4 linked regions of the Homo sapiens genome follow. The protein of the gene in region 1 interacts with the protein of each later gene in a pairwise test. Each region holds a gene or a part of one and is shown in the gene's direction. Other genes may lie near its edges. The genes, in order: SLC10A1, SMPD2, RUSF1 and FA2H.

Region 1 (8,043 bases):
GGTCTGGAACTCCTGGACTCAAGCAATCCTCCTGCCTCAGCCTCCCAAAGTGCTGGGATTACAGGCATGAGCCACCATGTCCAGCCTCTACAGCCACATTTATACCATAAGTCACTACCATATTTTTTAATGGCTACATTCTTTTAAATGGGCCATAACCAATCACCTACTAATAGATATTTAGGTTATTTCCAATAGTTCACTATTACAAAGCAATGCTGCAGTGAAAATCTCTTTACGTAGATCCTCAAGCAATTATCTCTATAGGATAATTTTCTACAAGTAGAATTCTACTGTCAAGAGCAATGGCTGACTGAAGGCTTTTTATGCCACTTCAGAATCTGGGAAAATAGCTGACTTTTGCCAGAGATGAAATTAAAATGTCCCTTAAGTAAAATTTACACAGCCACCACTACCCCCCCATGATTGTTTGGATGTTGTGTTTGTTGTGTTGCTTGCTACATCCAGCCTGTGAAAGAACAAGTCTAGGCCAGTTTGGAAAAAATATGCAATCACAGGATCTTTTCCAGTCAAAGCTTTCAGGTCTCAAAAAGCAGGCTAACTCGGGAGACAGGATGAGGCAAAAGAAGGAGCAGGTCAGAAGAGCAGCTGGGGCCCGGAACCAGGCTGGGCATGAATACCAATTGTACCACTCACTAGCCATGCAAATTGGGCAGATTATTTAACCACTCTAAGCCTTTTCCTAACCTATAAAATAAGGATAGCAATAGCATCTTATCTCATAAGGCTATTGTGAAGACTAAATAAAAACGTGGGCATTTAGTGCTATACATTTCCCTCTTAACACTGCCTTAGCTGTATCCCAGAGATTCTGGTATGCTGTATCTTTGTTCTCATTAGTTTCAAATAACTTATTGATTTCTCCCTTAATTTATTTGCCCAAAAGTCATTCACGAGGAGGCTGTTTAATTTCCATGTAAATGTATGGTTTTGAGCAATTTTCTTTGTACTCAATTCTATTTTTATTGCTTTGTTGTCCAAGGGTGTGATTGGTATAATTTTATTTTTGTTTTTTGCATTGGCTATGAATTGCTTTATGTCCAATTCTTTGGTTGATTTTAGTGAATGTGCCATGTGGCAATGAGAAGAATGTATATTCTGTTGTTTTGGGGTGGAGAGTTCTATAGATGTCTACTAGGTCCATTCAGTCAAGTGTTGAGTTCAGGTCCTGAGTATCTTTGCTTTGATGATTCGTCTTGCCTTGATGATCTGTCTAATACTGTCAGTGGGGTGTTGAAGTCTCCCTCTGTTATTGTGTGGGAGTCTAAGTCTCTTCATGGGTCTCTCAGAACTTGCTTTATGCATTCACCCCCTCTGGAGGATGCAGCAACAAGGCATTATCTGCAGAGAGCAGCCCTCATCAGATACTGAATCTGCCAGCACCTTGATCTTAGACTTTCCAGCCTCCAGAATTATAAAAAATAAATTTCAATTATTTATTTTTTAAAAAGAACTTGCTTTATGAATCTGGGTACTCCTGCGGTTGGTGCATCTATATTTAGGACAGTTAGGCCTTTTTGTTGATTTGAACCCTTCACCATGATGTAATGCCCTTCTTTGTCTTTTTTCATCTTTGTTGGCTTATAGTCTGCTTCGTCTAAAATTAGGATTGCAACCCCTGCTTTTTTCTGATTTCCATTTGCTTGGTAGATTTTTCTCCATCCCTTTATTTTAAGCCTATGGGTGTCATTGCATGTTAAATGGGTCTCTTGAAGACAGCATGCTGTTCGGCCTTGCTTCTTTATCCAGCTTGCCACTCTGTGCCTTTTATTTGGGGCATTTAGCCCATTTACATTCAAGGTAAAGGGAACACTTATACACTGCTGGTGGGAGGGTAAATTAGTTAAACCATTGTGGAAAATAGTGTGGCAATTTTTCAAAGAACTAAAAACAGAACTACCATTCAACTCAGCAATCTCATTACTGGGTATATACCCAAAGGAATATAAGTCATTCTACCATAAAGACACATGCACACGTGTGTTCATTGCAGCACTATTCACAATAGCAAAGACATAGAATCAACCTAAATGCCCATCAACAGTAGGCTGGATAAAGAAAATGTGGTACATATACATCATGGAATCTATACAGCCGTAAAAAAGAATGAGATCATGTTCTCTGCAGGAACACAGATGGAGCTGGAGGCCAATATTCTTAGCAAACTAATGCAGGAACAGAAAACCAAATACTGCATGTTCCCACTGATAAGTGGGAGTTAAATAATGAGAACTAATGGGCACGAAGAAGGGAACAACAGACACTGGGGCCTACTTGAGGGAGGAGGGTGGAAGAAGGGAGAGAATCAGGAAAAATAACTATCAGAACTATCAGGTACTATGTTTAGTACCTGGGTGACAAAGTGGTCCGTGCACCAAACCCCCATAACACAAGTTTGTCTGTAACAACAAACCTGTACATGTACCCCTAAATCTAAAATAAAAGTTAAAAAGAAATGTAATTTAAATCACAGCATCCATCACACAGCATGTGCTCAACAACTCTCAGGTATCATTAACATAACACAAAAAGATCTTCCTGTTTCCAAAATTGTATTAAATTAGAGTAGATTCTGAGGGGATATGGGGAAAAGAATGGAGGGTGTCAGGTTCCTGGAAGAGATTTTTCCATTCTCTGCAAAGTCACATTGCTAGGAACAGAGGGAATGGGAAGGAGTGGGAGGAGGGGCAGCCAGGGCAAGAAACTGTTTTCTCAAAGGGAAAAACTCACAGTAGGAGGTGGAAGGATTTTGGGTTCCTGAGAAGAGGTGAGGAGGAAGAGTTGATAGAGACTACGTGGTTTAGAATCCAGGTTACAAATGTGTTCATAGGAACTCTTCTTCTCTTTGGATGTGCACAATAGACACATGCCCAGACCCTGATCTTTAACAGATATTGGTCAATTCCTCCTCACCCTTTGGCATCAGGCAAATGTGTAAAAACCTAACGTCTCCCTTTGACTTCAAGGCCTCATGTACGGTTGCACAAGACATCTGTAGAGTGGCGTCCCTAGCATTGTGTAGTGCCCAACCTGAACAGGTGTACCTGGCAGCCCTGCATGGCCTCCACCCTCACGTGCTTCCATATTGCATTGTGTACCATCTGGCCATCTGTGGTCTTGTACAGACCATCAGGTCCCTGAGAACAGGAACATGAATTATATAGTTTTTTTTATTTATTTATTTTTATTTTTTTTGCCTCCCATGGTGCCTGGTACTCAGTTAGTGATCAATAATTCTCCCCTAGCAACTCTGTTCCCTTCTGATTAGCCCCAGGGAGAGGAAGCAGCCTCCTCTGAGACTCAACCCTACCCTGTGGGAACGCTCAGTCCAGGCATCACATCCAGTGCCCAGTCCTCTGCCTGCCCTCCCTTTGATACCAGCCCAACTCAAGCACCAGGAAATCATTAGCAGAGACTCTCAAAGGAAAAGAGGCTTCAAGTTCATGTCACCCAGGGCCACAGTATACGGCCCCGCAGGCTGCCCACCGCGCAAGCCCAGGGAGCAGCCTTTTCATGGATATGATGCAATATGTATGGATCCTGCCATCCAACCCTTATCCAAGCAGGATTCCAGAGGCCTCAAGGCCATTCTTGGAGAGCTCTCATTTTCAGGTGGTTCCTTGCACCAAGCCAAAATCTGTCCCCACCTCCACCCAACAGTGGTTCACACCCTGGTCCCTATTCTGCCCTCTGGAGTCCTACATACAAAGCCTAATCACCTGTTTCAGACCCCACCCAGGCCTCCTAGGTTCCAACCAAGCCAAGAAGCAATTGTGTTTCTGAAGGAGACCCCTCCTCCCTTGTCCCACCTCTGCAGTGGGGATAGATGGAAAGAGCAAGGCCTAGGATAACCTCACACACTAGGTGGCCCCGCCCCTGGCATGCCCACCTCTCTCTGCTTCTGCTCCACGCCCCAAGCCTGGCTCCCAGCCTGAAACACACAGGCCCAGTGCAAAAGTAAAGCAATCAGGAAGTCAGGAAGAAAAGACTGCATTCCTGCTTCCTTCTCAGCAAGTTTTGCAAGCAATGGGCCTCCTCGGGCACAAAGCAATCTCCACAGCCAGGGTTCTCTCAGGTTGCTTTTCGGGGAAAGAGCCTCCAAGCTTCCTGAGAGCCCACCCACCATCCCAGCTGGTTATTCCCTCTGATGGTAAGCATTCCAGGTAGTGTGGAGCAGCCACCACCAGTATTCCTCCCTGGGACTCATACAGTCCCAGTTTGGGGATAAAACAAACATTTCCCCAGAACAGGCAGGGAGGATACTGGCATCCTCTCAGCTCCCAGGAAAAGGGTCATGGACACATCCCCTCCTGGAGGCCAGTGACATTGCCTGTCCCACACCCCCTTGGACTATGCTACCTGTATCTAGGAACCAAAGGCAACACCCAGCTCCTTTCACTCTCATGGGTTCTGGGGACAAATGATAACCCACTGGACATGGGGAGGGCACCTTCCCCCAACCAAGAAACTAAGGAATCAAGAGCGGAGCTGGGAAAAGGAGCTGCAGGGAAGGAGATGGGCTGGACCTAGATTCAGGTGGGCCCTGGGCAGGTCCCCAGTAACTGAATGAATGCCCATGAGGCACACTCAGTGGAGGGCAAAGGGGAGAAATAAGCCCAGAAGCAGCAAAGTGACAAGGGAGGAGTACAAGTAGCACCCAGGAATCCAGCAGAGGTCAGGGAGCTTGGGAGAGCTAGGGCAGGCAGATAAGGTTCTGGGCTGTTCCTCTTTGGGGCGACAGCCAGAGAAATAGCTCAGATAGTTGCATAACCCTTCTATTTGCCCAGAGCTTTTGTCCAGAAACTCTCTGTCCTGAGAGGTGATTAAAGAAGGCATCCAGCAAGAACTGCACAAGAAACGGAGTCAGCCGGAGAACAAGGAGTGGTCTTCCACTGCCTCACAGGAGGATGGAGGCCCACAACGCGTCTGCCCCATTCAACTTCACCCTGCCACCCAACTTTGGCAAGCGCCCCACAGACCTGGCACTGAGCGTCATCCTGGTGTTCATGTTGTTCTTCATCATGCTCTCGCTGGGCTGCACCATGGAGTTCAGCAAGATCAAGGCTCACTTATGGAAGCCTAAAGGGCTGGCCATCGCCCTGGTGGCACAGTATGGCATCATGCCCCTCACGGCCTTTGTGCTGGGCAAGGTCTTCCGGCTGAAGAACATTGAGGCACTGGCCATCTTGGTCTGTGGCTGCTCACCTGGAGGGAACCTGTCCAATGTCTTCAGTCTGGCCATGAAGGGGGACATGAACCTCAGGTAGGCCTGGGGGTGAGGAGGGAACAGCCTGGGACAGGAGCTACATTAGATATGTCACAATTGAGGGGAAGAGCTGGGCTAAAGCCAGGAAAAGGAGTGAATGCAGGCTGGGTGGAGGCTAGGGCAGGGGAAGTCTGGCATTTATTGCCAAGAGCTTATGCTGGGATGGGGGCAGGAGTTGGGGTACGTCTGGTTTAGGCACCAAGCCAAAGGGACCATACTGGTCCAGGAAGCTCGTGGTGATCTCCTTGCTTCCAGAGGTGTCTCAAGGATTGTCTTAAAGGAGCACTGATTAAAGCCAAAGGAACCTCTGGAGAACTGCATCCACCTACAACAGTGGACAAGTTGCCTGCTTTGAGCCCAGAGATTTAAAAGGTAGTGTGATTCGTTCCAAACATCATCAGGGAGATCAAGGTGACTTGGAACCAAATGAGCACCTCAAATTCCTGCAAAGCGGGCAAGAATTTCCAAAAGGTCCTCCCAATTACCTGGTCATCTAAGATGTTTTCTCTTTAAAGTCCCTCATTCCCCATCAGATGCAATGACATTTCCATGCAAAGGCACAACCAGGGAGATCCTAGAGTTTCCCAGCACCCACTCCAGATAGGCCAGCCCCATCTCAGCCACCCTGATAAGGGGAAGACAGCAGCACCCCCTAACCCCCTGCCCAAAGCATTATAAGCAGAAATCAGCAAGGGCTCGCTCCTGGAGACGCAGCACACAGGGGCTGGTTGATGCTCATCCTTCCAAACTGGGGAGACTCTAGTCTTGAACATCTGCCAGAGGAGCTACTTCAGACCTGCTCCAGCTCCAGCAGCCTGTGCTGAAGCTAAAGAAAACTCACTAGCAGAAGCTCTTGCTTTCAGTGAAACCTCAGTCTCAAGCCAGTCCCCCCTGGTTTAGTCCTCCGTGGAGACGCTATTCAATGCCAGGTATAGCAGCAGAACCCAGAAAGTCCATCTGCTTGTGTCTGTCAGCACCCTACTCCTAGCCAAACTTTCCTAGGAAAACTAACCCAGTCAAGAAGCCCCTCCTAGTGATGCAAAATGACACTGGGACAGATTTTTTAAATGAAAAAAGTGAGAATGGCTGGGCACGGTGGCTCACACCTATAATCCCAGCACTTTGGGAGGCCAAGGCAGGAAGATCACTTGAGACCAGGAGTTTAAGACCAACCTGGGCAACATAGCAAAACCCTGTGTCTACAAATATATACATATATATTTAATTAGCCAGGCATAGTGGCACATGCCTGTAGTCCCAGCTACTTGGGAGGCTGAGATGAGAGGATCTTTGAGCCTACGAGTTCAAGGCTACAGTGAGTCATGATCACACCACTGCACTCCAGCCTGGGCAACAGAGTGAGACCCTGTCTCTCTCTCAAAAAAAAAAAAAAAAAGGAAATAAAAAAGTGAGAGTGAATGAGAGTTGGGGTTTAACAGGATCTGCCATCTGAGAAGCTCTGGGCTCTTTTTCCATATGATTCAGCCCTCACTTTAGTAGTCAATGGGAAGAGAGGCACAAAGAGGGCATTTGGCTTGTGCCATCACCCACGGAAAGGTATTTCAATGTTCAACTACCTCACTGTGAGAAAATGCTTTCCTCTGTCTAATCCACATCCTCTCTGCTACAAAGCAAGCCCTTGGTCTTGGATCTGGCTTCTGGACAAGGCTCATGGCAGCCTGTGTGTCCCAAGAATCCTAGAGTATATCTGAATTTTGGTGTATGAGGGATGCAGAAGTCAGGGGCCTGCGAAGGGGTACTCTGAGGGCTTTGTGTTTCTGTGGAAGAAGCAGAGCAGGGGACGTGGAAGGCAACTGTGCTTTTAAGTGTGAGTGGCCAGATGTCCCAGCCCCATCGCCAGTGGCCACTATTGAGGCCTCTGCCACAATGCCTACATTGCTGTGGCTCTAGGCCCCACCCAGGCAGAGCCTCTGGTGACTCAAGAACATGACCCCTCATGCTCTCCTGCTCAACCTCCTTGTCCAGACCCCTGATGACTGTCATTTTTACCTAGACCCCCACAAGAGATAAGCTCTGCTGGGACAGCCACCTTCTGCCATAAAACTCCTTCCCAACAAACAACCCTCCCATGCACATTAAACCATGTCTCAGATCCCACTGTCGGAATGGGAATCTGGTCATCTACCTTCATGTGCTGCCAGACTTCAAATCCCATTCCAATTTGGGACAACTTGTTACATGCATTATAATAATGACAACGATTATAAGAAACAGCCAGGCACAGTGCTAAACACCTTACCTGGATAAGTATATGTGATCCTCCTACAGCACCCTGGGGGACAGCATGTAACAAGTAGCATTTAGAGGTAAGGAAACTGAATCTTAGAGAGGTCAATACATTGGCTCCAGGTCTGGGTGGCTCCGGAACCTGTGCTTTTACTGAAATATCTTCCAGGTCAGCATTTCCACAAACAAAATGGCCAGACAGCCTCAAAGGCATGGGCAGACACCCGTGTCTCAGCAGCAAGTATTGTGTGGGAGCCAGAGCTTCCCACTTTTCAAAAGAAGGTAAAATATCCATTTTATGTGAAATCAGCAACTCATTCCATTTTTTTAAATGTGCAAACCAAACAATACATGTCAAAGGGCCAGCTGTAGCCCAAAGGCCCCAGTTTGAGATAAGCACAATACTCTACATCCCATTTAGAACTGGAAGGAATTGTAAGACACAGATCCCATTTTACACATGAAGAGGCTGAGGTCAGAGACTTGCCAGAGGTTTCCCAGAGTTTGTG
Region 2 (8,182 bases), on another chromosome or scaffold:
TCACGCCTGTAATCCCAGCACTTTGGGAGGCCGAGGTGGGTGGATCACTTGAGCTCAGGAGTTTGAGACTACCCTGGGCAACATGGTGAAACCCCATCTGTTAAAAAAATACAAAAACTAGCTAGGTGTGGTGGCGTGTGCCTGTAATCCCAGCTACTTGCGGGGCTGAGGTAGGAGGACTGCTTGAATCCAGGAGGTTGAAGCTGCAGTGAGCCAAGATCGCCCCACTGCACTCCAGCCTGGGTAACAGAGTGAGACCCTGTCTCAAAAACAAAACACCTAGCTTGGTAAATGATTAATACAATTTAGGAAAAGTACGTAATGTAGAGAAATAAAATCTAGTTACACTAAAATTACTCTTTCAGTTTTTCCAAAACAATGCATAAATAATTCAGGCAAAACTTGGCTTGTTGTCTATATCCCCCACACCCCAAATATCCTTTACCCTTTTTTTCTCCTGTAGATATTGATGCCATGCAAATTCTTGAAGAGGAACTAATATAGGATCTTCAAATTTGGATGGATGATTATTCTTCAGATTCTGGATTTCGAAATAGAATAATTATTTTAGAGTTAGTTCTCTTTTAAAGTCAAAATCATGTTCCCCAATTTTTACGGGGTTTCCAGAAGTTTTATACAACACAAGCCCAGGCCATGCAGTCCGACTGAGATATTCCTTGCTCGCTGTCAGAGGCCCTTGTGTTCACCTCCAAGTTGCTCCCCAGTCCAGGGAGCTTATTTGTATAAGTGCCTCGAAGCCAAGAACTATGTCTTAGAGGCTGGGCGCAGTGGCTCACACCTGTAATCTCAGCACTTTGGGAGGCTGAGGTGGGCAGATCACCTGAGGTCAGGAGATTGAGACCAGCCTGGCCAACATGGCAAAAACGTGTCTCTACTAAAAATACAAAAAAATTAGCCAGGCATGGTGGGTGTGTGCCTGTAATCCCAGCTACTTGGGAGGCTGAGGCAAGAGAATCACTTGAACCTGGGAGGCAGAGGTTGCAGTGAGCAGAGATCACGCCACTGCACTCCAGCCTGGGTGACAGAGTGGGACTCTATTTCAAAAAACAAAAAACAAAAAAACAAAACAAAACAAAAAAAACTCTGTCTTAGTATTCCTATATTCCCACCTGCCACAATCTCTGGCACACAGCAGCTGAATAAAGAGAGGAATACATAAATGGGTTAACGCCAATAGCTTTGTGATATGCTATGTTCTTTAAGACTAGTTTTTCCCTAAGTACAACTCTTGCTAAACCTCGGTGGATCTACAGATACTTTACTTATAACTAAAATAAATAAATAAATGTTCTTGCTTTAATTCACTGATGAATGGGGGATGACCAAAAAGATAATAACGTTGTGGTTATACCCCTTAGGAAAAAGAGAAGTACGAAATCAGTTTAGGTTTAGATACGGAATATGTTCTAGTTTGACATAGATTGTCTGCAGGAATCAGAGAAAATTCTTATTGGTTAGCAATCCAGGCTTGGTTCTTGATATTCGTTATACTTTGTCTCCCTCTAAAGCAAGAGAACACAGGTGAAGCAGTAACAGGCCTCTTTTCTGAGTGGGTTTGGGAAGTAGATGGACCAAAGGGAAAAGTGACAGCTGCTGCAGGTGGCACTTCCCTGCTAGGGACAGTGCTTGGAGGTCCTGTCATGGTCCAAAAGAGGGTGCTGGCCTAGCACAGGTCATCAGGGGTGAGTATTCCAAGGGGAGAAAACCAGGATGTGAGTGTGGCCTACTTTGGGAATACTCATGAAGAGGGCAACAATAATTAGGCCATTTCCTTCTGTCCCCAAGCAATAGCTGACGCATCTTGTTTCTCAGTTCCAGTGTCTGTGCTCAGTTTGAGGCAATACTGCAGGTTGACTACTATTTCTTTTCTTTTTTTTTTTTTTTTTTTTTTTTGAGACGGAGTCTCGCTCTGTTGCCCAGGATGGAGTGCAGCGGTGTGACCTCAGCTCACTGCAACCTCCGTCTCCTGGGTTCAAGCAATTCTCCTACCTCAGCCTCCCAAGTAGCTGGGATTACAGGCACCCGCCACCACGCCCAGCTAATTTTTGCATTTTTAGCAGAGACGAGGTTTCACCATGTTGGCCAGGCTGGTCTTGGCCAGGCTGGTCTTGAACTCCTGACCTTAGGCGATCTGCCTGCCTCAGCCTCCCGAAGTGCTGGGATTACAGGCGTGAGCCACCGCACCTGGCCCGGTTGACTGCTATTTCTAACCATCTGGAATAAACTATAAATCCAGCAGTTTTCAAATGAAACACATGTCTTTTTAGTAATTTAGTATTTGTTGTAGAACGGACTATATCCAAATGAAAATGTATGCAATATTTGTTCCTATTCTCTACAAATTTCAATCTTTTGTGTGTTTGGTTTTTACATTTTGTTTTTTATTTTTCAATTGACATATAATAATTGCACATATTTATGGGGTAGTGATGTCTCAATACATATAATGTATACTTATCATTAGCATATCCATCATCTCAAACATTTATTATTTCTTTGTGTTGGGAACATTCAACACAAATCTAAATCTTTGTCAGTTAATCAGGCATCTGGGATCGCTCACAAATTATCATGTTAGGAATACATTCAGATATCCTTTATTAAGACAGAACTAGAGGCTGGGCATCACCGTGGCCCATGCCTATAATCCCAGCACTTCGGGAGGTCGAGGAGGATTGCTTGAGCCCAGGAGTTCAAGACCAGCCTAGGCAACACAGTGAGACCCCCATCTCTTCCAAAAAAAGAAAAAAAAAACTAGCTGAATTTTCATATTTGAATATAACTACAGTAGGTAAAAGTTTAAGAAAGGGAAAATTGACATTATTAATACAATAAAGATATTGTTTTCTCGACCTACTGTCTTCTACATCAGGGGTTGGAGAGGAATAATTTTTAGATTTGTAAACAGTTTTTTGTTTTTTTTTTTAAGACAGAGTCTCACTCTTGTTGCCCAGGCTGGAGCACAGTGGCACGATCTCAGCTCACCGAAACCTCCACCTCCCGGGTTCAAGCGATTCTCCAGCCTCAGCTTCCCGAGTAGCTGGGATTACAGGCGCCCGCCACCATGCCTGGATAATTTTTGTATTTTTAGTAGAGATGGGGTTTCACCATGTTGGCCAGGCTGGTCTTGAACTCCCGATTTCGTGATCTGCCCGCCTCAGCCTCCCAAAGTGCTGGGATTATAGGCAAGAGCCACCGCGCTCGGCCTGTAAACAATTCTAAAAAATCAAAAGAATTGTATTTCACGTTATGTGAAAATTATACGCAAGTCAAATTTCGTGTCCATAATATGGTTTTACTGGAATACTGTCATTCATTTCCATCTCTGTGTCTGCTTTTGCAACACAGGAAAAAGCTAAACAGGTGTGACTGAGACCCTATTGCCAAGAAGGCCTAACATATTTACTATCTGGACTTTACAGAAAAAAACTTGTCAACACTTTCTTTACAATGTGGAGTCGGCACAGAAAATATGTGCCTTCAGAAAAAGAGCGAAAAAAAAGAGAAAAAAAATCTCTGAAACTCATTAATACATTAACTTTGTAATTAACTTCATGGCCATTAACTTTGGTAATAAAAGGTTGCTGATCCCGTCTGCCCAAGCAACACAGACCACAATTTCTACTTTTGATGATTCATGTATTATTTTCACAGACTTCTGATCACTTGTTTTCTTTTTATTATTTATTTATTTTGAGACGGGGTCTGGCTCTGTCGCCCAGGCTGGAGGGCAATGGCGCGATCTCAGCTCTCTGCAAACTCCGCCTCCCGGGTTCAAGCGATTCTTGTGCCTCAGCCTCCTGAGTAGCTGGGATTACAGAGACCGCCACCACGCCCGGCTAATTTTTTGTATTTTTAGTAGAAACGGGGTTTCACCATGTTGGCCAGGCTGGTCTAGAACTCCGCCTCTGCCTCCCAAAGTGCTGAGATTATAGGCGTGAGTCACCGCGCCAAGATATCTTCTATTTGGGAACATTTTGTTGTCAAGTATCCAGCTGGGTACTTCGGGAGTTAAAAACATTAATTAAGGCATGGTCCTGGAGTCAAGTGAGCTTCGGCGAGAAGTTTGCCATGGACAGCATTTCTGGAGCAAACCCTGTAAGAAGGGCTGAATTCTACATGCCGACATTTCATACATTTCTCCTGCATTTCAGGTTGTAAGTGTGCTGCAGCATGACTGATCTGGCCAAATTCTTCCAGTTTCCTCAAGTGCTTTTCCTTTAGTATCGTTCTGAGTGTTTACAAAGAAATGATTTTCCAAAGCACTTGTGAAGCATCTAGTTCGATTGGAACGCAGTGACGGCTCTATAAAATTCAAAGAAAAGAATCTCCCCGCATGAATAGTTAACAAAAATCGCTTGGGCCGAGGTGGCGGGGTTGTAAAAATTAGCTAGTTATATAGTAATCATTTTTCCATAAATTTAAATATCTCTAATTAAAGAAAAAATTGACGTAGAACAAAATCTGCGGGTGTGTGTGTGTGTGTCTCGGAGGGGATTACCTTATCTCCCAGCGCGGTTCTGAACCCTTCCTTCGCTCAGTTCTCCCTTTAAAAGTCGCCAAGTGGAACGCCCGCCCCCGGACCCGCACTTGCCCCCCTATACTCTCCTCCCGGTCCTCCAGACGGAGCCCGCCCGGCCAGGACACGCCAGCCCCTTCCTCGGCCGGTGGGGCCTCGACCCCCGCCGCCTCGAGGAGGCGCGGCGCCTGCAGTCCACGCGGCCGAGAGCGGGTAGCGGGGAGGGCCGCCCACGACGGAGGTTTCTCTGTGGTTACCTCAGCGGCGCTCTTCGCAATCTGAAAGTTGGGGCAGCTGAAGAGCCCCACCACCTTCACCTGCAGCGGCCGCTCCGGCAGCGACGGCGAGCCGCACCTAGCGTGCGGGGGCCCGCACGGCTGCGGCCTTGCCATGGCCGCGCCCGGGGACGCCCGGTGACCCCAAACACTGCGCGTCGCTCCGGCAACCGCGCGGCCCCGCCTCCGCCGCTCGCAGGAGGCGGGGCCCAGGGGCGGGTCGAGGGCGGCCCGTGGCGGCTGGGCCTTTCCTCAACTTTGCGCCTGTTGCTGGGCCGCCGGCGCGCGGGCGGCCGCGACCGCCGGGGACGAGCTTGGAGGAAAAGGAACCGGGAGCCGCCCACCCGGGGGCGCTCTCCGGACCCCCAGGGTCCTAGCGCGCGGCCCTTACCGAGCCTGGGCGCCCGGATTTCGGCAGCGGATCGCCTTTCCGGGTTGGCGGCCCGCCTGATTGGGAACAGCCGGCCGGTTGCCGGGGGAACGCGGGAGTCGGGCCCGACCTGAGCCACGCGGGCTTGGTGCCCACCTGTGCGCGCCGCCTGCGAAGAAGGAACGGTCTGGGGAGAAGGCGCCGCCGGCCGCCCCCGTCCCCACCGCGGCCGTCGCTGGAGAGTTCGAGCCGCCTAGCGCCCCTGGAGCTCCCCAACCATGAAGCCCAACTTCTCCCTGCGACTGCGGATCTTCAACCTCAACTGCTGGTGAGTGCGTCTGCGGAGTGCGGTCTGGGGGCCACCTTCCGTTCGCACCCATGCAGCCTTCCTCCCCCTATCCCGCCCCACGATCTCAGGGTGTAGGGAAAACCCGAACCTCCAAAGTCCACATCTGGCCCCAGCGCCGGTGGTCCCAGCAGTCGCCTCCCCTGCCCCGCTCTTCCCTTCCTTAGGGGCATTCCGTACTTGAGCAAGCACCGGGCCGACCGCATGAGGCGCCTGGGAGACTTTCTGAACCAGGAGAGCTTCGACCTGGCTTTGCTGGAGGAGGTGAGATTGTGCAGCACGGTGCGGAACCCAGGCTGGGAGGAGGGACAGACCGTCCCACTGGGGAAAGACCAAGCAGGCATCCTCACCGCTTCCCTCAGGTGTGGAGTGAGCAGGACTTCCAGTACCTGAGACAGAAGCTGTCACCTACCTACCCAGCTGCACACCACTTCCGGAGGTGAGAAGCCCACTGGCCTGAAGCCTGTTGTCATCCCAGGAGGCTCTTGGCCCTGCCAGCCCTTCCCTATCCTGCCTGCACTCTCCAGTCTCCTCCAGCCTCCTCTCCCTCTGGATGTGAGAGAAGGAGAAGGGTGAACCAAGAAGGTCCTATGACTTCAGCCCATTTCAGCTTTGTTTTCTGGCTGCCCTATACTCCTCCAAAGGCTGTCGCCTTGGTTCTAGGGCTAGTCCCAGCAGTAGAAAAAGAAAAAAATAGCTGATCAGAGCTGGAAGACAAGGGAGGGGAAGAAGGCTGGGTGTCTCTCCCTGTTTTTCTGGTTATTAAGCAGGGCTTGGCTTTCAGCGGAATCATTGGCAGTGGCCTCTGTGTCTTCTCCAAACATCCAATCCAGGAGCTTACCCAGCACATCTACACTCTCAATGGCTACCCCTACATGGTAAGGCAGACCTTTGACCTCTTCCACCTCCCTTCCCCACCTCCAGTAATACAAGGTAGAGGAGGCAGCCCTCTGAGAGCTGCAGGGGATGGGCAGAAAGATGGTGGCGGTGCCCTGAGTTTCTATCTCCTCCTGCCTGCAGATCCATCATGGTGACTGGTTCAGTGGGAAGGCTGTGGGGCTGCTGGTGCTCCATCTAAGTGGCATGGTGCTCAACGCCTATGTGACCCATGTGAGTGAAGCTGGCAGTGCCTAGGGCTGGGACATGCAGCCCAGTCCTGGGACAGAGAGATGGTACTTCTCTAGCTCTCATACCTGGGGATGAGGTGTGGGGGCAAGATCTTATAAGGAAGCAATGGGCAAGGCTTATCCATTGTATACCAAACACCATGCCAAGTGACAGACACAGGCTTGATTCAGACATACCCCTGGGACCCTCAGTCTTATCTGCTGTGATCTCATCTATCTTGCTCAGCTCCATGCCGAATACAATCGACAGAAGGACATCTACCTAGCACATCGTGTGGCCCAAGCTTGGGAATTGGCCCAGTTCATCCAGTGTGTGAGCCTGGGCTTGAAATGGGAAGTGGGATGGGACCCAGGGGCTGAGGGTGAACAAGGCCCCAGTCATGGGGAAGAGCTGGTGATGGAAGAACTCCCGCCTCACCAACCTGGTTCCCCCAGCCACACATCCAAGAAGGCAGACGTGGTTCTGTTGTGTGGAGACCTCAACATGCACCCAGAAGACCTGGGCTGCTGCCTGCTGAAGGAGTGGACAGGGCTTCATGATGCCTATCTTGAAACTCGGGACTTCAAGGTGAGGACTTGCCTGTTACTTCCCCACCTATATCCCCAGCTTCTCTCCCTCCTTCTCCCCCACATCCTAGCATGAGCCAATGATTCCCTTAGGGCTCTGAGGAAGGCAACACAATGGTACCCAAGAACTGCTACGTCAGCCAGCAGGAGCTGAAGCCATTTCCCTTTGGTGTCCGCATTGACTACGTGCTTTACAAGGTCAGGCTCCTCCCTTCAACATGCTTTCATATGCTGTGTCTCTTTGTCTACTAACCTGTGTAGATCCTTTGCTCAGCTAGTCTAGTCTTGGACCACTGATGGGTGGAAAGTGGGGTAGCCGGGAGCTGGTTCTCTGGGAAGAGGCCCTCATATATAAGCTTCTCTCTGGCCCTTACTTTTCCTAGGCAGTTTCTGGGTTTTACATCTCCTGTAAGAGTTTTGAAACCACTACAGGCTTTGACCCTCACAGGGGCACCCCCCTCTCTGATCATGAAGCCCTGATGGCTACTCTGTTTGTGAGGCACAGCCCCCCACAGCAGAACCCCAGCTCTACCCACGGTGAGTCACCCCCACCCTTTCCTTGGCCCTTGCCCCGCTTGAAGCAGCCCTTCCACTCTTGACTCTCTCCTGCCCCACTGCCCTGCTCTGTTGTAGGACCAGCAGAGAGGTCGCCGTTGATGTGTGTGCTAAAGGAGGCCTGGACGGAGCTGGGTCTGGGCATGGCTCAGGCTCGCTGGTGGGCCACCTTCGCTAGCTATGTGATTGGCCTGGGGCTGCTTCTCCTGGCACTGCTGTGTGTCCTGGCGGCTGGAGGAGGGGCCGGGGAAGCTGCCATACTGCTCTGGACCCCCAGTGTAGGGCTGGTGCTGTGGGCAGGTGCATTCTACCTCTTCCACGTACAGGAGGTCAATGGCTTATATAGGGCCCAGGCTGAGCTCCAGCATGTGCTAGGAAGGGCAAGGGAGGCCCAGGATCTGG
Region 3 (7,286 bases), on another chromosome or scaffold:
TCCCTGGCCCAGAGGAGAAACTCAAGAAAATGGAAAACCCATTCCAAGGCCCATGTGTCAACTTAAAATCACGTTAGGGCCGTGTTTCTCCATAAGTACTAGCATTTGGGGTGCAACGGTTCCTTGTGGTAGAGGACATTTAGCTTCCTTGGTTGCAAGCCTAAATGCTACGAGCACCCCTAAACAGGGTAGGAAACCCCAGAGAAAAGCATGGCTGTAGCTATGGACCGAGGGTTGTGCCATCTGGCTTTTGCTTCAAACTCTGCCTTTGAGACTTCAGTCTCTTCATCTGTCCAACAAGGGAATGGAACAGGGCCATGAGCTTCCCTCTTAAGACCCCTCTCTAGAGTTCCCCTCTCCACAACCTCCATCTCCAGCTGCACCAAGAGAAGCCAGCCTGGCTGTCATCTATGCTGCCGCCACCACCACTGCCACCACCTCCTCCTCTTCCCCCTTCCCCTTATCTGTCACCTTCGGCTGAACCTTCAGTTCTGTTATTTTTCCCTCCTCAAAATCTCCAGTCCATTCTCTCCTCCATCTTCCTGTCACCACCTCTCACTGCTGAGAGAGCACCGTTGCTTCCCAGGTAGCCTCCGTGCCGCTCCTCTCTCAGAGCAGCCCAGTGATCCTTTCAAAGAGGAAAGCAATCAGGTCACTCTGCTGCTCCATTGCTCTTAGGGAAAGACCTTCACCAGGCTTGCCAGGCTCCGTGTGGTCAGGTCCCTGCCAGCCACTTCGCCCTCACTTTGTCCCTCGTTCCTCTGGCCTTTGAACAGACTGTTTCCTCTGCCTGCGTATTAACTTGTTTATTTGTTTATTATCTGTTGATCTGTATGCTCCATGAGGGCAGGGCCTGGGTCTGACTTGTATCACAGCACCTAAGTCTATGTCTGGCATCTAAAAGAGCCCTCAGCCAGGGGCGGTGGCTCACGCCTGTAATCCCAGCACTTTGGGAGGTTGGCGTGGGAAGATCTCTTGAGCCCAGGAGTTCCAGGCCCGCCTGGGCAACACAGGGAGACTCTGTCTGTATTCAAAAACTAAGGATAAATAAAAATAGTAATAAGTAAAAGAGCTTTGATGAACTCGGGATGATTGTGAGTGACCAGTGACCCTCCTTGATTAGCTTTATCCTGCGATCTCAGAGGGAGAGATCTGGGTACCCTGGGAGGTCAGGGCCATCAGTGTAGGTTTCGACAGCTTTAACTGGGGCAGGAGGAGAGTAGAGGAATTACAGGAGGCAGATGTAAGCATGAAGCTGGAAACCAGCCTGAGCCTCCCGCCAGTAATGGGGAGGGTATAGCCCAAGCAGGAGCTGGAGGGCTGGGAGTTCTGGGCTGAGAATGATCTTTGGGCCTCCACCTTGGGGAATGAAATTGAGCTTCTGTGAGGCCAGTCCCCAAGGTGATAGTGGCAGGTGGGACTCCAGTTTCCTAGAACAGGACAGGGAAGTTGAGCCTAGGGGGCATCAAGGTGAGAACTAGATGCCAAGGACAGCATTCAGAGTTTGGCCGGGGCCAGGTTTTCTCCAGCTGGTCTGAGTGCCTGTGTTACCAGGACACGTGTCTCTGCCAACCTTCTCTCTTCCCCTCCCACCCAGTGCATCGTGAGTGTTGCTGGTGGGGCCACTCGGGCTGCCCTGACCGTGCACCAGGCTCGGAGGAACAACATGGCTGACGTGTCAGCCAAGGACAGCAGCCAGGTGAGTGCCAGAGCTGGAGGGAGGGCGTGGAGTGGGGAGGGGAAGGGGAGAGAAGCCACTTGAGTGCCCTGGAGGGCCCAGGAACACACAGGAAGAAGTATGGGTGCTCCCTGCTGACTCAAGACACCCAGGCAGGAGTAGGGGTTTGGGCTCTGGTGGCGGCAAGTCCGAGCTGATCTCAGGCCCTGCCCGCCACCTGTGTGGCTGAGAGCAAGCCCTCAGCCTTGCCCTCTTCAGACCCCACCGTGCAAGCTGGATGTTCTGATCACATGAGGCCCCACATGTCAAGGCAATTGGCAAGTCAGAGTTACCCAGCATGTGGGGTTGCTGGGTCACTGGCTGGGGCCTCCACTCAGCAGTTTAGCAGGCCTGCTGGCCCAGCCCCCTTGCCCACCCTAGGGAGCCTGGAGTTGGGGTAGGGACACCCCTAAGGCTGAACTCCGCATGGATTAGACCTCTACAAACCCCGTGCTGAGTGCTTACGTGTACTGCATCACTTAACTCTCACGCCTGTCATCCTAGCACTTTGGGAGGCTGAGGTGGGAGGATCACTTGAGGCCAGGAGTTTGAAACCAGCCTGGGCAACCCGGCGAGACCCCATCTCTACATAATATATAAAAGAAACTTCAGCTAGGTGTGGTGGTGCACACCTGTAGTCCCAGCCTCGAGCTCAGGAGGTGGAGGCTGTGGTGAGCTAAGATCACCCCACTGCACTCCAGCCCAGGTGACAGAGCAAGACCCTGTCTCAAAAACAAACAAACTCTCACACCAACCCTTTGAGGTAGGTACTACTTTATCCCTAGTTTACAGATGAGGAAATTAAGGCCCAGGGAAGTCCCAGAAGTGTGAGATGGTTTTCTTTGACACTGAAGCAATTTAGAAACTGCTGTTCTGTGCATTCCTACTTTCTGGCCTTCTCTTCCATTGTTTGGCTCAATAATCTTAACCCAAGCTAATATTTATTAAGCACTAACCATGTGCCAAGTATTTTGGTTCTGGGAACTCTTTAAATTCTCACAGTGGGCATGTGCAGTAAATGCTCATGGTTGCCTTAGTACAGATGAAGAAATAAAGCATGGAGAGGTCCCATCTCCCTGGGGGCCCCTGGGGAAGTCCCTTCTCTCAGGATGCTCGGGCTTATTCCACCCATTGTCTCTTCTGAACCTAAGTCCACAGGCTGTTAAGGAGCAAGCAGGAAGCACAGCACAGGTCCCTCACCGCAGGACTCCCAGCTCCATGCCTGGTGTCCCTCTCCTGTTCTCTCGCTGGTCCCCAGACCTCCCCCTAACCCCAAGCCATTTTTCCCAAGACCCCAGGGCTTCCTCGGTCCACAGAGCCAGGGACATATCCGGGACTAACCTGGGAATGTGTCAGTCCCGCAGCAGACTCCAGCTTTCTGCCAGTGCAGCTTTGCTGTCACTGGATGTGGCCACTGGAAATGACTCTTCCCACCTGGGAGAGAGGAGCTCCTGAACTCCCCAGGTCCCTGATCCCCAGTTTCCTGCCACACCCACAGCGTTTATTCCCACAGCATATGCCCTTCCCAGGAGGGCTGGTTGAGAAGAGCTCTCCAGTCTCGGGTCCTCTCTATGCCAGGACCAGCTCTCCCTGGGAGCCCAGTAGTCAGGGGCACCAATCCAGACTCCTCCCTCATGATGAGTTGGGGGCAGGTAGCCTGGGGTCCCTTCCCCTAGAGTGATCTCAATCCAGCCATCAGAGTGTTCTCCTAACATTGATACACAAGGGAAGAGGTGTGGGTCTTGTTCCTTTTCTTCCCGGGTGGTTCCTTGACCCCTTTGCAAATCTATCTGCCAGTTACTGCATACCAAAGGAGCTTGGTGGGAGGGGAGCAGTCAACTTTTTAAAATCAGTAAATAAAAGTTATTCCAGCTCATGCCTGTTATCCCAGCACTTTGGGAAGCTGAGGTGGGGATTGCTTGAGCCCAGGAGTTCAAGATCAGCCTGGGCAATATAGCAAGACCCATCTTTACCAAAAAATGCAGTAATAATTAGCAGAGGCGTGGTGGTAGGATCACTTGAGCTCAGGAGTTTGAGGTGGCTGTGAGTTATGATTGCACCACTGCACTCCAGCCTGGGTGACAGAGCGAGACCCTCGCTCTTTAAAAAAAAAAAAAAGTACACATTAGTGAGTGCCTGAGTGTGGGTCTGTTCTGGTGACTTGCAAGACAAGATGTGTTCAAGGGTATTCCGAGGGCACCTACCTGGGCAAAAAAGCAACTGATACACATATGTATTTAGACAGGGTATCACTGTGTCTCCCAGGCTGGAGTACAGTGGTGCAATCATGGCTTAATTTTTTTTTTTTTCTTTTTTGGAGACAGTCTTGCTCTGTTGCCCAGGCTGGAGTGAAGTGGCGTGATCTCAGCTCACTGCAACCTCCACCTCCCAGGCTCAAGCAGTTCAGCCTCCTGAGTAGCTGGGAGTAGAGGCACGCGCCACCATACCTGGCTAGTTTTTTGTATTTTTACAAAAATGCAATGGGTCTCACCGTGTTGCCGAAGCTGGTCTTGAACTCCTGAGCTCAGGGAATCTGCCCACCTCGGCCTCCCAGATTGCTAGGATTACAGGCGCGAGCCACTATGCCCCACCAAATTTTTAATTTTTTTGTAGAAATAGGGTCCCACTATGTTGCCCAAGCTGGTCTCAAGCTCCTGGACTCAAGTGATCTGCCCACCTCAGCCTCCCAAAGTGCTGGTACTACAGGTGTGAGCCACCTCGAGCTGGCATCTTTTAAATGACATTTCACCCACCAAAAACTAAAAATTTACCCACATTGCAGTAAGGAGCCCTGGGAGGTTGTGGAGCAGGGAGGATGAGGTGAAAGGCACTCGGGCACTCAGTCTGGCCTGGAGGGGCACCTTCCAACTCCTTCTCCCTCTGCCATTTTCCAGGAGACGCTGGTGAACCTGGCGGGGCTCTTGGTCAGCCTCCTGATGCTCCCTCTGGTGTCAGGTTGCCCTGGGTAAGCCGGAAGCAGGGTGGGCAGGAGAACCCCAGCTGGGCCTCTGCCCACTTCAGCTACCTCACTCTCTCACCCCAGCTTCAGCCTTGGATGTTTCTTCTTCCTCACTGCCCTCCACATCTACGCCAACTACCGCGCGGTCCGAGCCCTGGTCATGGAGACCTTGAACGAAGGCCGGCTCCGGCTGGTCCTGAAGCACTACCTTCAGAGGGGAGAGGTACTCGACCCAACTGCAGCCAATCGCATGGAGCCGCTGTGGACAGGTGACCCTGCCCCTGGTCTCGGGTCCTGTGTCTCAACCTCTCCCACTGCCTAGGCATCCTGACCCCAGCTTCCCACAGGTTTCTGGCCAGCTCCGTCTCTATCCCTGGGGGTCCCCTTACACCGCTTGGTCTCCAGGTGAGTGGCCTAGCGTCTCCCGCTCGTCACCACCGCCACCCACACTCCCCTCACTCCGATTACACACTGGCCTCCCTGGCAAGGCCCCACCTCTCTGTCCTGGGTTCTTCATTGCTGCTGAACAGACATGGGGTTGGTGTGGGTGTGTGAGGAAGGAAAGGGTGTATAACATGAAGCAGATGTAAGAGATGTGCTTGATGGGTGAAGGAAGGATGGGTAGATGGGGAAGTTGGATGACTGGATACAGGAAGAAAGGATGGATTTGGTGTGTATGGGTAATGGCTGAGGGAGAGAGGAAGCGAGGGGACCTGAGTGAAGCCTGGATCATTTCAGTTCACTGGGTGGCTGTTCAGTGGCTGGTTGGGCATGCCTGCCTTTGCTGTCCTCCACCCCCACTGCACTGTCCTCTCCCCCACAGTGTCTTTGAGCTGCAGCAGCTGGTTGAGGGGCACCAAGAATCCTACCTCCTCTGCTGGGACCAGTCACAAAGTGAGTGTGCCTCATTCTCCCAGCCTAAGACGCACCCTCCCAGGTCAGCCTCTCATTCCTCCAACCTAGGGCCCCGAGCTCTGGGCAGTTTGGAGGCTGCCTGTTCTGGGGGTTGCTCTAGACCGTTCAAATTACAGCTGCAATGCCCCAGTGAAATTCATGTCACCGCTTTGTAAAACAGAGCTAACAGTACCTGCCTTATTCCTTGCGGTGTTTTTATGAGGATCAAATAATGTGACTGCAAAGCTACATTGCAGCACTCTTAGGAAGGCTATGACCTTTGCTGTCCGTGGGAAACCACCCTTCTCTCCATCCTGGGTTGCCTCTTGGGTAAACAAGTCCTTGAGTGTGCTGGTCCGCTGGTTGAGTGTGAAAAGGTGCTTATTCTCACTAGCCATTAAAGAAATGCAAAATAGACCCAGCCCAGTGAGCGGCTGGGAAATTGTATTTGGAAATTGGTCAGTTTGGCCCGAACATTGGGGAGCAACAGGAGATGAATTGGAAAGGAAAGGGTGAGGTGCTAGCCTTCCGTGCCAGGCCAAGGTCTTGGGGCAGACAGGGGAAGCAGGGTGATGGGATAGAAGGGGTTTGGGAGGTGGCCCTTCCCTGATACCAGTCTGTCTCTGGGTCCCTCCAGACCAGGTACAGGTAGTTCTGAACCAGAAGGCAGGCCCCAAGACCATCCTAAGGGCCGCCACACATGGGCTGATGCTTGGGGCCCTGCAGGGAGATGGACCCCTTCCAGCAGAGCTGGAGGAGCTGAGGAACCGGGTGCGGGCAGGTAAGTGCCTCAAGATTTAGACTGCTGATGCCTCAGGGTGGGGAGGAGAGAGGACAAACTCTGTCCTGCTGGAGGACACAGAGCTTCTGGTTCTGCACCCCCGTACCCAGGTCCTAAGAAAGAGAGCTGGGTCGTCGTCAAGGAGACACACGAAGTGTTGGACATGCTGTTCCCAAAGTTCTTGAAAGGTAACATCCCTCAGCCCATGGCTGCTTGGCCCCTGAAGCCTTGTCCCTGGGGGCCCCGCCTTCCCCCACTCCCACCCTTTCACCTGAAAGGTAAAAGACTTGGGTTCTTGGGCCTGGTGCAGAGGCTCACACCTATGATTCTAGTGCCTTGGGAGGCCTAAGTGGGCAGATTGCTTGAGACCCTGCCTGGGCAACATGGCAAATCCTTGTCTGTACAAAAAAAACACAAAAATTAGCCAGGTGTGGTTCTGCTCTTGTGGTTGCAGCTACTCAGGAGGCTGAGGTGGGAGGATCACCTGAACTGGGGGAGGTCGAGGCTACAGTGAGCCATGATTGTACCAGCCTGGGTGACAGAGCAAGACCCTCTCTCAAAAAAAAAAAAAAAAAAAAGACTGTCGGGCACAGTGGCTCACACCTGTAATCCCAGCACTTTGGGAGGCCAAGGCGGGCAGATACTTGAGCTCAGGAGTTCAAGGCCAGCCTGGGCAACATGGTGAAACCCTGTCTCTACCAAAAATATAAAAAAATTAGCTGTGCATGGTGATGCACGCCTGTGGGACTGTCAGGAGGCTGAGATGGGAGGATCACTTGAGCCTAGGAGGCAGAGGTTGCAGTGAGTCCAGATTGTGTCACTGTACCCCAGCCTGGGTGACAGAGACCCCATCTCAAAAAAAAAAAAAAGATGGATTCTCTCTGCAATCCTAAGTTTGGGACTCAGTTACTCAGTTTCCCTGTTTATAGGACGGA
Region 4 (7,762 bases), on another chromosome or scaffold:
GAGCATAAACATCAGGGAAAATTTTATGTCTTTGTAACCAATAGGCAGAGAGGTGAAAGGTTTGGGGTACAGTAGTAGGTGCAAGTTTTTGGTAATGTCCTAGCTCTTGAGTTAGGAGGAAGATTCAAGGAGTTAAGGAAACTTTTTGCTTTAAAAATTACATATATGTTTTTGTTTTCATAAAAATATCTTAAAGATTAAATAATTAAAAATAGCAAACTAGTTTTTAGCATGCCATACACACCATTCCTGTTGTTTTCCCCTACAATACTCTGGAGATTATTCTAAATTAGTACACATAGATCTACCTCATTTTTTCTAATGGCTACATAGTATTTCACTGTCTGAATATACCATAGTTTATTTAATCAGTCCTCCCTCATGATGAACATTTGATCATTTCTAGTCTATAAATGAGGTTGCAATTAATGTTATTGTTCATGCATCTTGATATAGTATATCTGTAAGATTAAATTTCTAGAAGTGGAAATAACTAGGGCAAGAACTGTGAGTGTTACAATTCTGAACAGATGGCCAAATCATTTGTTCAACTGTAAACACTGGGAGTTCACAGCCATGGTGAGAAATCCAAATGGGAGTGCCCACAGATACTGTCAGCAAGAAGTGCCTGAGTACACCTGCGACTGTGCGCTTGGCTGCTTTGGCACATGAACGGGATTTGCAGCAGAGTAGGTGTGGAAGTTGGGTAAAGGTGACTACTTATGCATTCACCGCTTGAGAAAAGCAACAACTCTGTTGATGTGAGGCCTCTAGGCCTGACGGACAGGTGCTCCATAGACCCACAGACAGCAAAACTCTCGCCTACTCCCTGAGGGTCAGTCCGAAGAGAAGGGAGAGGGAAGAGGGGCGGCTCTTCTGACCTGGGGACCCCTGAGGCATCTGGGCCAGGCTTCCCATACTTGAACTGGCCCAGCACAGATGCCTGGCCCCAGAAGGGCACAAATGGAGATGATCCTTAAAATATCTTTCCTGAAAGAGACAAAGCCAGCTGGATGGGTTAGCCTCTGTACCAGGAGCATTTGATTACAAATCATGAGTTCAAGTGGGATCCCCTGTGGCTGAGCAAGTAAAGCTGGGTGTGGCTTTTCTGCTTTTTGTTTTCTGTTTAAGAGATGGAGCTCACTCTGTTGCCCAGGCTGGAGTGCAGTGGTGCAGTCATAGGATACTGCAGCCTCAAACTCCTGGACTCAAGAGATCCTTTGGCCTCAGCCTCCCCAGTAGCTGGGACGATAAGCCTGCATCACTACAACTGGCTAATTTTTTAAATTATTTATTTATCCAATTATTTTTGAGATGGAGCCTCGCTCTGTCACACAGGCTGGAGTGCAGTGGTGCAATCTCCACTCACTGCAACATCTGACGCCTGGGTTCAAGCGATTCTCCAGCCTCAGTCTTCTAAGTAGCTGGGACTACAGGGGCATGCCACTGCGCCCGACTAATTTTCTTGTATTTTTAGTAGAGACAGGGTTTCACCATGTTCGCCAGGCTGGTCTCAAACTCCTGACCTCAGGGGATCTGCCTGCCTTGGCCTCCCAAAGTGCTAGGATTACAGGTGTGAGCCACCGCACCTGGCCTCAATTTTTTTTTTTTTTTTTTTTGAGACAGAGTTTCGCTCTTGTTGCCCAGGCTGGAGTGCAATGGCACAATCTCACTGCAACCTCTGCCTCCCGGGTTCAAATGATTCTCCTGCCTCAGCCTTCCTGAGTAGCTGAGATTACAGGCAGGCACCACCATGCCTGGCTAATTTTTTATTTTTAGTAGAGATAGAGTTTCTCCATGTTGGTCAGGCTGGTCTCAAACTCCCGACCTCAGGTGATCCGCCCACCTCGGCCTCCCAAAGTGCTGGGACTACAGGCATGAGCCACCGCGCCCGGCCTGGCCTCAATTTAAAAAAAAAATTTTTTTGTAGAGACGAGGTATTGCTTTGTTGCCCAGGCTGGTCTTGAACTCCTGGGCTCAAGCGATCCTCCTGCCTTGGCCTCCCAAAGGGTTGGGATTACAGGCATGAGCCACCATGTCCAACCAAGTTTTTCCTGTTCTAAACAAAACTGTGATGAACAAATTCAGTCCTCCTTTCCACACAGCATCACCCCCAGCCTTTACTCCTGTAGGCCCCTACTTCCCCTTCTGTAATGGAGACAGTGTTCTCTGTTCTCCCCTCAGGTCCTTCCCCAGGGCCCAGGATTAGAGTGAGGGAGTGAGGCACTAACCCTGAGAGCAAAATCTACAGGCATGCCAAAAAACAAACAAAAAAAAGTAACCAAGATAAATAATATTTTAATGCAGTATTGTAAAACTTCAAGATTAATGCAAAAAAATCCATGATGGACAAAATATCAAAATTTTAAATAAAAACAGGAGCTAACCCTGCACTTTCACATCCCTGTCTCAGGAATCCCTGGCCCTGGTTCCAATAAAACTTTATTTACAAAAACAGGTGGCCAATGCCACGCCCCCAACCCCACCCCTCACCCCTGTCTTTTGACAATGTGATTTTTTAAAACATTCTTAAATATTTTGTATTGCGGTAAAATATACATAATATAAATTTACCATTCCAACCATTTTCAGTGTACAGTTCAGTGGCATTAAGAACATTCACATTGTGCAACAAAATAATTTTTTTTTTGAGACAGAGTCTCTCTTTCTCGCCAGGCTGGAGTGTGGTGGGGCGTTCTCGGCTCACTGCAACCTCCAACTCCCAGATTCAAGCGATTCCCCTGCCTCAGCCTCCCAAGTAGCTAGGACTACAGATGCGTGCCTCCACAGCCAGCTAATTTTTGTATTTTTAGTAGAGATGGGGTTTCACTATGTTGGCCAAGATGGTCTCGATCTCTTGACCTCGTGATTCGCCCACCTCGGCCTCCCAAAGTGCTGGGATTACAGGTGTGAGTTACCGCACCCAGCCAACAATATAATTTTTTAAATATTACGTTCAGGTATTAGATATAGTGATGACTGAGTTTTGGGGTGCCCCATTAAATTTTGCCCTCGAACATTATTAAAAAGTCAAGAAACAGTAGATGTCTGCGTGTATGTAGTGAAAGGGGGATGCTTATGCTATGCACTGCTGGTGGGAATGTAAATTAGTACAACTTGTTTGGAAAACAGTACAGAGATTCTTTAACAAACTAAAAGTACACTTTGGGGCTGGGCGCGGTGGCTCACGCCTGTAATCCCAGCATTTTGGGAGGCTGCGGCGGGAGGATCACTAGAGGCCAGGAGTTCGAGACCAACCTGGCCAACATGGTGAAACCCCGTCTCTACTAAAAATACAAAAAAATTAGCCGGGCGTGGTGGCACGCGCCTATAGTCATAGCTACTCTGGAGGCTGAGGCAGGAGAATCGCTTGAACCCGGGAGGCGGAGGTAGCAGTGAGCTGAGATTGTGCCACTGCACTTCAGCCTGGGCAACAGAGTGAGACTCTGTCTCAAAAAAAAAAAAAAAAAGTGCACTATGGGAGGCCATGGCAGGCAAATCGCTTGAGCCCAGGAGTTTGAGACCATCCTGGGCAGCATGGTGAAACCTCGTCTCTACAAAAAATACAAAAATTAGCCAGGCGTAGTGGTGCATGCCTGTAGTGCCAGCTACTTGGGAGGCTGAGGTAAGAGGATTGCTTGAGCCCGGGAGGTCGAGGCTGCAGTGAACCAAGATCGCACCACTACTCTCCAGCCTGGGTGACAGAGTGAGACCTTGTCACGGGAAGGGAAGGGAAAGGAAGGGAAGGGGAGGGGAGGGGAGGGGAGGAGAGAAAAAGTAGATTCACCATTCGGTCCAGCAATCCCACCACTGGGTATCTACCCAAAGGAAAAGAGTCATTATATGAAAAAGACACTTGCACACGAATGTTTGTTTTTTGCAGCCCAATTCACAATCGAAAAGATATGGAACCAACTTAAATAACCATCAACCAATGAGTGGATAAAGAAAATGTAGTTGATATACACGATAGAATACTACTCAGCCATAAAAAGGAACGAAATGAAGTCTTTTGCAGCAACTTGCATGGAGCTGGAGGCCATTATTCTAAGTGAAAGTGATTCAGGAATGGAAAACCAAACACTGTATGTTCTCACTCATAAGTAGGAACTAAGCTATGAGGACGCAAAGGCATACAGAGTGATATAATGGACAATAGGGAGAATGGGAGGGGGTGTAACACACACACACACACAAAACCCTACACATTGGGTATAATGTACACTACTCGGGGGACAGGTGGACTAAAATCTCAGGACTTACCACTATACAATTCCTCCATGTAACCAAAAACCACTGGTACCCCAAAAGCTACTGAAATTTTAAAAACAAACAAATATTTGCACCCGAGGCGAGCACCTCATTCGCCTCTCGCTCTCTCGGGCACCTCCTGGAGCCAGAGGGTCCCATGCGGCCAGCTCCTCCGTGGAAGCAGTTGAAGTTATTCCAGCAGCGATCAGGCCACCGAGGATGTCCGCCCAGACAACCACCCGCGACGGGGAGACTCGCTCCGCCTGTGTCCGCCCACCCTCCTCCCGCGCGGGACACACCTGGCGGGCGCGGCACTCCCTGTCCGCGGCCACCTGGCGCGCAGCTCCCGGCGCCGGGCCCGCCCCTCGCGGCTCTGCCGGGGCTCCCGGCCGGCCAATGGGAGCGCGGTATGCAAATGAGCAGGTGCGGTGGCGGCCCGCCCGGAACGGCCGCGGGGCTCCCGGGATGTTAGAGGCGCTCAGGGTGGCAGCAGAGCAGACGCCGGGCTGCGCGCTGGGAGCTGCGGTCTCCGGCCATGGCCCCCGCTCCGCCCCCCGCCGCCTCCTTCTCGCCCTCCGAGGTCCAGCGGCGCCTGGCGGCCGGCGCGTGCTGGGTCCGCCGCGGGGCCCGCCTCTACGACCTCTCCAGCTTCGTGCGGCACCACCCGGGGGGCGAGCAGCTGCTGCGGGCCAGGGCGGGCCAGGACATCAGCGCCGACCTGGACGGGCCGCCGCACAGGCACTCGGCCAACGCGCGCCGCTGGCTGGAGCAGTACTACGTGGGAGAGCTCCGCGGGGAGCAGCAGGTACAGCCGGGCCGGGGCCCCCCACCCCAACCCAGGCCTCCGTCAGCCTTCCACTCCCGGGCGAGCCCCGTTCACTTGCCCTCTAGCAGGACCCAAGGTGACAGCTTCTGCCCTCCCTTCCCTCGCTTTCCCTCTCTTCTCTCCAGGCAACAGGTCACTGTCGTCCCCTCCAACCCCTCCTTCCTCTCTCCAGGAACTTGCTCTTCCTTTCCACCCTTACCGCCTGGCCCGCCTCCGTGCCAGCTCTCCCATTTCCCCAGCACCCCTCCTTCCAGCGTGTTCCTTCTGCAGCCCCTGCCCTCCGACAACCTGGATTCCCGTTTCTGTCCCCAGCCCCCCATACGCCTCGGCTTTCCTTCCTCTTCACTTATCGGCCTCTCCCTCTTTGCAACCACTCTCCGTTTCTGTTTGGATAATGGGCTCAACCTGTTCCCACCTCCCCATCCCACCTCACTTCTGCTTCAAAGAGGCACAGATCAGTAACTCTTCTCACTAGCTTGGGTTTCCTGGTGCCGCCCTGGCCTTGCCTGGGCCATGTCTGGGGTGGACTGTGTCCTCCAACCTCTCAGACCTTCCCTTATATTCTTGTCCTACACGCTGGCTTGGGACTCCAAAAGAGTGAAATGAAAGGCATGAGCCAGTTTTGCCAAGGAAAAGGGACCAGCACTTTGGACCAGACTGTGTGCTGAGCTGCACGCTTCTGTGCAGTACCAGCTCCCGATGGTATTTAAGTCCTTAACTCAACCTGGGGCAGGTTTTGTTATTCCCATTTCAGGATATGGAATCTGAGGCTCAGGGAGGCTCTGATTAATGCGCCTAAGGTCAAATAGCTAAATAGTGGGAAAGCCACATGTATCTGACTCCAAAATCAATGCTGGCTCCATCCCAAAAGTCTTCGGGTGGAGGAGACAGACCTAGTCCACAGGATTCCAGGTAGGCTCAGGCCAGAGGCAAAGCGACTCTCTTGATGTTCCCCAGGCCTGGCTCTGGGACTGGTATGGGGCCATCATGCTTAGATATACAGTAGTTCCCCCTTGTCCAAGGGGATACATTTCAAGACCCTCAGTGGATCCTTAAAACCACAGATAGTACCGAATCCTATATATGCTATGTTTTTTCCCATATATGCATATCTATGATAAAGTTAAATTTATAAATTAAGAACAATAGGAAGAGATTAACAACAACAATAATAGAATAGTTACAACAATATACTGTAATAAGAGCTATTTGTATGTGGTCCCTTTCTCTCAAAACATCTTATAGTACTGTACTCACTCTTCTTGTGATAATGTAAGATGATAACATGAGGCCAGGCAAAGTGGCTGACATCTGTAATCCTAGCACTTTGGGAGGCCGAGGTAAGAGGATCGCTCGAGCCCAGGAGTTCAAGACCAGCCTGGGCAACATAGGGAGACCTTGTGTCTACAAAAAATACCAAAATTAGCCGGGTGTGGTGGCATGTGGCTATAATTCTAGCTACTTGGGAGGCTAAGGTGGGAGGATCACCTGAGAGGTGGAGGCTGCAGTGAGCCATGATCATGCCACTGCACTCCAGCCTGAGCAACAGAGTGAGAGCTCACCTCAAAAAAAAAAAGATAATAAGATGCCTACATGATGGGTTGGAGTGAGGTGAATGACAGGTGTGGTGATGTGGCATTGGCTACTATTGAAAAGTAATTTAAAACTTATAAATTATTTCTGGAATTTTCCATTTAATTATGTTTTTGGACCCAGGTTGACCGTGGGTTACTGAAACCATGGAAAGTGAAACCGTGGATAAGGGGGACTCCTGAAAACCAACAATTGTCCCCTGCTTCTAACTCTTGCTTTCAAGATGAGCCCAGCAACTACTCTTAGATCTTTGGTTGAAAGGACTTAGCACCCACTGTTTCAGGTGGCTTTTCATTGGGTCATCCTGCCTAATTTCTCCATCATTTATTCAGTCATGGAACTGGTTCCTTAATGGGTTGACAGCACTGTGCTGGGTGTGGGGAGATATCAATGAACAAAACGAATTCGGTTCCTGTCTTCATGGAGCTAATGGGATAATGGGGAAGGAGAGGGAACACACAGATCACATGATAGTTGCTTAATTAATGGTGTATCAGAGTACGGATCTAGAGGGGAGGAGCATAGAGAGCCTTCTTGAGAAAGCGACATTGACACTGAGAGCTGATTGATAGGCTGGGCTTAGCCAGGTGGCATGTAGCAGGAAGAATATTTTGGGCAAAGGGAACAGCACGTGTGAAGGCTCTGGCAGGAAGAGCTTGACATAGTAAAAGACTGCAAATAAAACCAACGTGGCCAGAGGCTGATGGGCAAAGACAGGGATGTGGGGGGAGGCCAAAAGTCGGCCGGGGCCACATCACACGGGGCTTCGTAGGCTGTGGTCAGGATTTGGGACTTGACTCTAACAAAAATGGGAAGCCAGGTGAGCCCGGGAGGTGGAGGTTGCAGTGAGCCAAGATCACGCCACTGCACTTCAGCCTGGGCAATAGAGCAAGACTCCATCTTAAAAAAAAAAAAAAAAGGAAGCCAGGGAAGAGGTTCAGGCAGGGTTCATGGTCAGATTTGCATCTTTAGAAGAGGACGCTGGCTGCAGTTTCAAGGAGGAACAGAGACAGCCTAAGTGGGTGTGAGGAGATCAGGCAGGATGCTGCTGCATGGCTGCCACTGCAGTGGCTGTGACCATGGGGGGAAGGG

Evidence for each region.
Region 2: the proteins of SLC10A1 (region 1) and SMPD2 interact in binary tests that used the Homo sapiens proteins (3 or more experiments, as listed by UniProt).
Region 3: the proteins of SLC10A1 (region 1) and RUSF1 interact in binary tests that used the Homo sapiens proteins (3 or more experiments, as listed by UniProt).
Region 4: the proteins of SLC10A1 (region 1) and FA2H interact in binary tests that used the Homo sapiens proteins (3 or more experiments, as listed by UniProt).

Annotation. Positions count from the first base shown.
Region 1 is NC_000014.9:69,794,041-69,802,083, reverse strand, and holds the start of SLC10A1 (hepatic sodium/bile acid cotransporter), read left to right. Parts: upstream 1-4,842; 5' UTR 4,843-4,928; coding exon 4,929-5,284; intron 5,285-8,043. UniProt on the Homo sapiens protein: As a major transporter of conjugated bile salts from plasma into the hepatocyte, it plays a key role in the enterohepatic circulation of bile salts necessary for the solubilization and absorption of dietary fat and fat-soluble vitamins.
Region 2 is NC_000006.12:109,435,659-109,443,840, forward strand, and holds the start of SMPD2 (sphingomyelin phosphodiesterase 2), read left to right. Parts: upstream 1-5,065; 5' UTR 5,066-5,463; coding exon 5,464-5,513; intron 5,514-5,698; coding exon 5,699-5,795; intron 5,796-5,893; coding exon 5,894-5,970; intron 5,971-6,301; exon of another isoform or gene 6,302-6,315; coding exon 6,316-6,409; intron 6,410-6,551; coding exon 6,552-6,641; intron 6,642-6,884; coding exon 6,885-6,967; intron 6,968-7,093; coding exon 7,094-7,226; intron 7,227-7,318; coding exon 7,319-7,423; intron 7,424-7,608; coding exon 7,609-7,762; intron 7,763-7,858; coding exon 7,859-8,182. Other genes in the region: PPIL6 (probable inactive peptidyl-prolyl cis-trans isomerase-like 6), read right to left, coding at 446-541, 4,798-4,932. UniProt on the Homo sapiens protein: Catalyzes, at least in vitro, the hydrolysis of sphingomyelin to form ceramide and phosphocholine. Also hydrolyzes 1-O-alkyl-2-lyso-sn-glycero-3-phosphocholine (lyso-platelet-activating factor) in vivo.
Region 3 is NC_000016.10:31,491,262-31,498,547, reverse strand, and holds part of RUSF1 (RUS family member 1), read left to right. Parts: intron 1-1,597; coding exon 1,598-1,699; intron 1,700-4,611; coding exon 4,612-4,682; intron 4,683-4,760; coding exon 4,761-4,945; intron 4,946-5,023; coding exon 5,024-5,081; intron 5,082-5,499; coding exon 5,500-5,570; intron 5,571-6,207; coding exon 6,208-6,351; intron 6,352-6,461; coding exon 6,462-6,539; intron 6,540-7,286.
Region 4 is NC_000016.10:74,771,780-74,779,541, reverse strand, and holds the start of FA2H (fatty acid 2-hydroxylase), read left to right. Parts: upstream 1-4,721; 5' UTR 4,722-4,786; coding exon 4,787-5,056; intron 5,057-7,762. UniProt on the Homo sapiens protein: Catalyzes the hydroxylation of free fatty acids at the C-2 position to produce 2-hydroxy fatty acids, which are building blocks of sphingolipids and glycosphingolipids common in neural tissue and epidermis.